2 linked regions of the Homo sapiens genome follow. The protein of the gene in region 1 interacts with the protein of each later gene in a pairwise test. Each region holds a gene or a part of one and is shown on either strand. Other genes may lie near its edges. The genes, in order: PAWR and RRAS2.

The links.
Region 2: the proteins of PAWR (region 1) and RRAS2 interact in a two-hybrid assay, tested with the Homo sapiens proteins (one large-scale study listed by IntAct).

Annotation. Positions count from the first base shown.
Region 1 is NC_000012.12:79,593,292-79,597,113, reverse strand, and holds part of PAWR (PRKC apoptosis WT1 regulator protein), read left to right. Parts: intron 1-455; coding exon 456-603; intron 604-2,680; coding exon 2,681-2,785; intron 2,786-3,822. UniProt on the Homo sapiens protein: Pro-apoptotic protein capable of selectively inducing apoptosis in cancer cells, sensitizing the cells to diverse apoptotic stimuli and causing regression of tumors in animal models.
Region 2 is NC_000011.10:14,352,638-14,356,459, reverse strand, and holds part of RRAS2 (ras-related protein R-Ras2), read left to right. Parts: intron 1-3,822. UniProt on the Homo sapiens protein: GTP-binding protein with GTPase activity, involved in the regulation of MAPK signaling pathway and thereby controlling multiple cellular processes. Regulates craniofacial development.

The sequences.
Region 1 (3,822 bases):
GCACTCCAGTCTGGGTGACAAGAGTGAGACCCCATCTCAAAAAAAAAAAAAAAAAAGATAATCTGGGAGATCTGTCCTATCGTAGTTCTCATAGTATCCATCACTGACCTTATTTTACTGATCATCTTGCTTTATTATTAGTTATATTCCCTTTTAACCAAAAGCTCTATGAAGGGCAGAGTCCATGTTTGTGTTTGCTGTTACGTCTTCAGTATCCAGAACAGTGTTCGTTACTTAACACCTATTCAGTAGATATTGGTCGAAAGAATTAATGGTACTTTTACATTTTTTTCATTGTGTGGGAATAATGATTAACTTCTACAGTTACAAATAAGTTGCTACTATAACCATATGTCCTTGGGGAATGTTAATTTTTTTAAGCTCAATAGAAAATATTCTTGGCATTTTTCTTGCTGAATACTAGGGATTTTAATAAAATGTTTATATTTCCACAGCACAACCAGTGTCTCTGAAGAAGATGTCTCAAGTAGATATTCTCGAACAGATAGAAGTGGGTTCCCTAGATATAACAGGGATGCAAATGTTTCAGGTACTCTGGTTTCAAGTAGCACACTGGAAAAGAAAATTGAAGATCTTGAAAAGGTATGGATTATAAGTTATTTAAGATTGATAAAATTAATATACCATTAGAATTCTTTTGTTTCATAGCAACTGAGTGAGAAAGGAAATAATATTCCTTAATATTTAATATGTGCGCTTTTCTGCCAACTGTTACCTTTAGTATATTAAAAGCCCTTGTTTTTGAAGTGGTTAGAAGTCTGAGCTGGCAAATATATACTACTGTGTATTTATTATATTGTCTGAATAGATTTTCATTTGTAACTTTACAAATTACAGGAGTAAATCTGAGTTAGGTCCATCTTTGGTGTTTGAAACAATTTTGTCTAAGAATATGCCTGTTTAAAAGTGTCTTTCAGTGCAAGTCAGATGACTCTTGGCATAAATTTATTAACCATAGGGTCTCAGGTTTGTGCCATAGACATTCAACCCCTAAAATTAGCAATGGTGTTGAATACTTTTGTAATTGTTGAAAATGTGTTTTGTTTTACTTGAGATTATTCTCTATATTATTAAAGATCTAATTTATATATGTTATGTAAAGAAATTTCATTTTTAAAACTTGTTTCTATTTTATAACATTTATGATTTTTTGAGGTCACATTTCTAAGCTTTAACAACAGTTTCTTCTTGGAATTATTATTTCATAGTTTTATTTATTTTTATTTATTTATTTAGTTTTGAGACAGAGTTTCGCTCTTGTTGCCTAAGCTGGAGTACAATGGCTCAGTATCGGCTCACTGCAACCTCCACTTCCCAGGTTCAAGTGTTTCTTCTGCCTCAGCCTTCCAAGTAACTGGGATTACAGGCATGCACCACCAAGCCCGGCTAATTCTTTTTTTGTATTTTTAGTAGAGAAGGGGTTTCACCATGTTGGTCAGGCTGGTCTTGAATTCCTAACCTCAGGTGATCCACCCGCCTCGGCTTCCTAAAGTGCTGGAATTACAGGCGTGAGCCACTGTGCCCAGCCTATTATTTCATAATTTTAAATTAAAAAGTTTAGACAATATGTAATCTAATAGTTTTGAAGATAGTTGCCCAGAAAGGCTTCGTGAGTTCCACAAGAGTTTGGATTGAATTGCTAGTAGTTGGCAGCAGCTAAGGGATATGGATGGTTGATTGCTCTGTAGGAGGTTTAGTAAGAAAGAAGCCAAGTTCTGGGCAAGGCCTTTTGAGCTCTGCTTCCCTTTTGCCCCCAAGGTGGCTGACCAAGCCCAGTGCCCTGGATTCTAAATAAGATGTCTTTGAAAAAGATGTTGCATTGTTTAAAGAAAAAAAAAATTAAAAATCAGTAATCTATTTTAGTTCCTTCTTTTTATCCATTATCAGTTAACTGGCAGAGCCAGAAGTAAAACTGAGGACCATTGTTTTTCTGTTTAGAGTTTCTATTGGGCCATCTCCTTTAAACTTTGTATTTTTAAGAAAAATTAATTTTGAATTATTTCAAACAAGATACCCATTAAAAAATAAGGTAGTTCATAACTTATAGTGGTGATAAGCTAAATAAGTTAAATCACAGGCCGGGCACAGTGGCTCACGCTTGTAATCCCAGCACTTTGGTAGGCTGAGGCGGGCAGATCACTTGAGGTCAGGAGTTCGAGACCAGCCTGGGCAACATGGCAAAGCCCCATCTGTACTAAAAATATGAAAATTACCCAGGCATGGTGGCATGCACCTGTAATTCCAGCTACTTGGGAGGCTGAGGCAGGAGAATCGCTTGAACCCAGGAGGTGGAGGTTGCAGTGAGCCAAGGTGCCATTGCACTCCAGCCTGGGTGACAAGAGTGAAACACTGCCATACATACATACACACACACACACACACACACACACACGAGGTTAAATCATTGAGTCTATTACATTAGTTTTGTTAAAGACTTGTATAAACATAGCTTTACTCAGGAGCATCCTAATATCTCCTGTGCATTCTCTGATTCCTTTTGTGGTGGGATCTTTGTTCCTTCACCAAATGTCTTAAGGGATTCATTGGAAATCTTCATGTATGTAAGATATTTTACCAAATTGGGGAGATATATGCCACTTAGGAAGATTATAAATAAACAATTACTTCCTAATTACTGGTTTTTAATTGTATCTACCAGGAAGTAGTAAGAGAAAGACAAGAAAACCTAAGACTTGTGAGACTGATGCAAGATAAAGAGGAAATGATTGGAAAACTCAAAGAAGAAATTGATTTATTAAATAGAGTAAGTATTTCACCATATTTCAGGTTTGGAGGGGTTTTTTTTGGCAATTGGATGAAAATATATAAATATGAAGAAATTATTAATTGCATTATTCACTTTGTTCTTTTGTTAGTGAAATAATAATTAGTAAGAGGTATCATTTTCTTCCAAAAACTGATTTCCTTTGGGCAGTTATCAGTTTAGCTCACTTAATTTTATTCTTTTGGAGATAGACTGATTTATGGATTTGTTCTCTGTTTTGTTAAAATCTGAGGGTGACAGGCGCTTTGTCACTACCATATGTAAGGGCACTGGCACAGAGTTGCCTCAAGAAATATCTAAAATTGGCCAGGCGCTGTGGCTCACACCTGTAATCTCAGCACTTTGGGAGGCCGAGGAGGGCGGATCACGTGAAGTCAGGAGTTCGAGACCAGCCTGGCCAACATGGTAAAACCCCGACTCTACTAAAAATATGAAAAATTAGCTGGGCATGGTGGTGGGCACCTGTAATCTCAGCTACTCAGAAGGTTGAGGCAGGAGAATTGCTTGATCCCAGGAGGCGGAGGTTGCAGTGAGCCAAGATTGCGCTGCTGCACTCCAGCCTGGGCAGCAAGAGTAAGACTCTGTCTCAAAAAAAAAAAAAAAAAACCCTAAAATTGGTACTCTTTATTATTATTATTATTATTTTTTGAGAAGGAGTCTCTCTCTGTTGCCCAGGCTGGAGTTCAGTGGCGCGATCTCAGCTCACTGCAACCTCCACCCCCCGGGTTCAAGTGATTCAAATTGATTACATCAAGATTTATTATTTTAAACTGCAAGAATAAATCTATAAATGTCTGCTTTTTTAACAGTAAAGAGTCTGTCTTGAAATAATGTTTCTTGTAACTAAAACTTATGGTGAATTTGTTTTAACCAGATGGTTGTGTGTTTGGGACAAGGATTAATACAGGGAAAAAAGAGCTGGATCATATGCTTTTAAAGCTGGAGAGCGAATACTTAATTTAGTGGCTTTGAATTAATTTTAGCTCTAAAACCTTTCCTTCAAAATGTCGTAGAAA
Region 2 (3,822 bases), on another chromosome or scaffold:
GTGCTCAGTAATGGTAGGTGTTATCAGTGTTTATGCCTACAGTTCTGTAACATGTTTAAATGCAAAGGGAATTCAGACTCAGAGAAGTCTGTGGAAAAAATTGATGAAAGCATTATGTAGGCTTGGTGGTGGGGAGAATGGAAATGTCATATGTGGGAGTCATATGCTAGTTTGGAGAGAGGAGGTGGCAAGTGGGGAAGTGGGATTGATAGTTGATTTGGGACCTGTGATCTGGTCTCTGCAAAAAGGAGCCTTTTTGGAGAGACAGGAACCCGACCACCTGGATGCAGTCTCAGCTCTACCACTTGCTGCATGTGTAATTTTAGGCAGGTTACTTAACTTCTCTGTACCTTAGTTTTCCCCATCTGTAAACTGGGGAAATATGGTGGACCACATATAGCTGTGAAATTAAATGAGTTAACATGTCAAGGGCTTAGAACAGTGTCTAGTACAGTCTGTAGTAAAGCTGCATACATTTTTATATTAATTTTAGATTATGGAGCTAAAGCGATTTTTTTATATTTACACTTAATAGGGTAGCTATTCATTGCCTGACTCCTGGAATGTTAAAATTCATTCCACCATGATTGTTTAGCAGTAGTAACTGGAGGGAGAGAACACAGCAGACTAATCATTTTAATAAGCAGAAGTCAGTTCTCTTGGTAGGAGATTAGAATGGCACAAATTGGACTTACTTTTTTAAGACTCCTGAAACACCAGACTGTTTTTACAATTTTCAGTATATATATTTTCTACTATGTGATTTTGAGCAGAAAAAAATATAAAATTGGGAACGGAGAATTTAAAAACAATGCCTTTTACCCTAACTTTCTTTGACTTAGATTTAGTTGTTACCTTCTGTTCATATGAAGAGTTGCAAAATTAGGGAACTAAGATAATTAAATTGAGATACCTTTTCCTTTTTAAAAATAAATATAACAAATCATAAAGTAGCCATGATAAAATGTAAAGTATTATGTTATTTAATGAATATGTGTGTGTACATTACCTCCTCCTTTCTGTTGCTCATATTTCTTTGAAAAATGTGTAAAGTTCTGTTGGTAGGTAGAACACCTAAATGTTAAGTAAACTCTAGGTAGGAAATGACTTCAGGATGGTACAGAGTGGTTAGGAGAGACTGCTGGGTGTGTGGGGTCTATGTCTCTCTACCCAGGTGACTTTGAGTAGTTTCTTAATCTGCCTTTATCTCGACTGAGCTTCTCTTTCTTCCCCATGAAATGTTGGGTTTGGTTGAACAAATTTCTGCACTTTTGAAATTCTAGGAGTGTTTTTTTTTTTTTATTCATTTAACTAGCTGTGTGTTTAGTCAAGTTTCTTAGGTTCTCTAAACCCAAGTTTCACCATTTGAGAAGGGAGAATAACATTAAATAATAGTACCCTTAGGGTTTTTGGAGTAAATAAAATAATGCAGGTAAATCATCCAGCACCGTGCCATCTACAGAGTAAGCAAATAAGAATTGTTGGCTGGGCGTGGTGGCTCACACCTGTAATCCCAGCATTTTGGGAGGCCAAGGTGGGTGGATCACTTGAGGTCAGGAGTTTGAGACCAGTCTGGCCAACATGGTGAAACCCCACCTCTACTAAAAATACAAAAATTAGCCGGGCGTGTTGGTGCGTGCTTGTAATCCCAGTTACTCGGGAGGCTGAGTCAAGAGAATCACTTGAACCTGGGAGGTGGAGGTCGCAGTGAGTCAAGGTTGCGCCACTGCACTCCAGCCTGGGCAGCAGAGTGAGACTCTTGTCTCAAAAAAAAAAAAAAAAAAAAAGAAATTGTTACTTGGTTTTATTTGCTGCTGTTAGTTCTGTATCTTGGTGTTCCTCCAAAACAAAATTTGTAATTTTTTCATTTTTCTTTGACACATAATCTGGTCTATTACTTTAAGTCTTCATTGCCCTCTCCTTCCTGGCTCAACCCTATACTCCCCTCCTTACTTCTGTGTGGTATTCAGGTGATGAATGTGGATTCCGTTTTGAGTTGGAGAAATTTCTTTTTGTCAGTTTGGATTTAATTTTAAGAAATAATGAGGTAAGCATTTAATTTTGGGGTTAGTGCTTTATCTGGTAACTCTGAGAAAAGGCCATATATGTTTTAAAAATTTACAGGGAGGTTTATATATTTTTTTTAGCATATTAACTTTTTATTCAACAATTTGCCAGATTTTGAGGTAGGTAGGGGTTAGCTGATTTCTCACGTCTTGAATTTCAGTCAGTCCTATGACCTGTTAGTCTGGACCCAGCATTGCTTTTTAAAAGTTTGTCTTTTGCTGAGTACTTTTTCATTGCTTTTTCCTGGGGCAGAGAGCCGAGAAGAGATTTCAGGAGATTTGTGTTAATAGTTAATTGATCCACATGTGAAGGTTGTGAGTTTAAATTCCCAATTTGCTGTTCCATTGCTACATCTCGAAGATTTTTCCTGCAATTAGAAACTACTTAAACTGTTAACTTTTATCTATTATTTTGAAACTAGACATTTTTAGTGTTTAAACTTTTTTAACATTAATGTACAAATGAATTGTTAGCATTGAGAAATAAGACACCTGCCCCCAAAGTGGTACCATACTAAAGGTTTTCTTGTTTGGGGAACAGTTGAAATGGTCCTGCAGGCAATTCCTAGATAAAATTTCTGTACACCCAAGGAAGAACATTTTCTTATAGAGGATGACTGCCTTTGGAGAAGAAGGAAATTTTAACCTGCAGTTTCTTAACTTACGTCTTATTCTTGTTTTGTTCATTCTCTTTCTCTTTGTGTCTGTCTCTGTGTGTGTGTGTTTGTGTGCATGCGTACCCCTGTTTTGGGATAAGGAAGTTGTAGGAATTGAGTGGGGACACTTTTTTTTTTTTTTTGAGACGAAGTTTCGCTCTTGTTCAGGCTAGAGTGCAGTGGTGCAATGGCGTGATCTTGGCTATCTGCAGCCTCCACATCCTAGGTTCAAGCGATTCTCCAGCCTCAGCCTCCCAAGTAGCTGGGATTATAGACAGGCATGTGCCACAACACTCAGCTAATTTTGTATTTTTAGTAGAGGTGGAGTTTCACCATGTTGGCCAGGGTGGTCATGAACTCCTGACCTCAGGTGATCCACCCGCCTGGGCCTGCACCATGCCTGGCCGAGTGGGAGCACTTTTGTTGAGTAGGTCAAGAATACTGCTTTCCCTTGGTAGATAACAGGCTACTGCTTACCGGGATGGGATTTTAATTCATCTGATTGCTGAAATATCATGGTCTTTCCTAAGCTTTGAATAAAAATAGTCTGCTCCATTCAGTTAGGAAAATAAATTGATAACTTTAAATTGGGGGAGTAGAGTGGGAAGAGACTTTCTTAAAGCTATTAAAAAAAATTTTAGCTGGGCACGGTGGCTCATGCCTGTAATCCCAGCACTTTGAGAGGCTGAGGCGGGCGGATCACTTGAAGTCAGGAGTTTGAGACCAGCGTGGCCAACATGGTGAAACCCTGTCTCTACTAAAAATACAAAAATTAGCTGGGTGTGGTGGCGGGCGCCTGCAATCCCAGCTACTACTCAGGAGCTGAGGCAGGAGAACTGCTTGAACCTGGGAGTCGGAGGGTTGTAGTGGGCGGAGATCATGCCACTGCACTCCAGCCTGGGCAACACAGCAAGACTATATCTCAAAAAAAAAAAATGTCTCTCTCTCTCTCTCTCCCTCTCTCTCTCTCTCTCTCTCTCTATATATATATATTTTAAAAGTTTCTTTTTCAAATTAAAGTTGGTCTTTAAAATTGAAACAGATTTTGTGATGCCACTTGACACGCCTTTTTTTCTGGTTGGGGAAAATGGTCTTTAGGA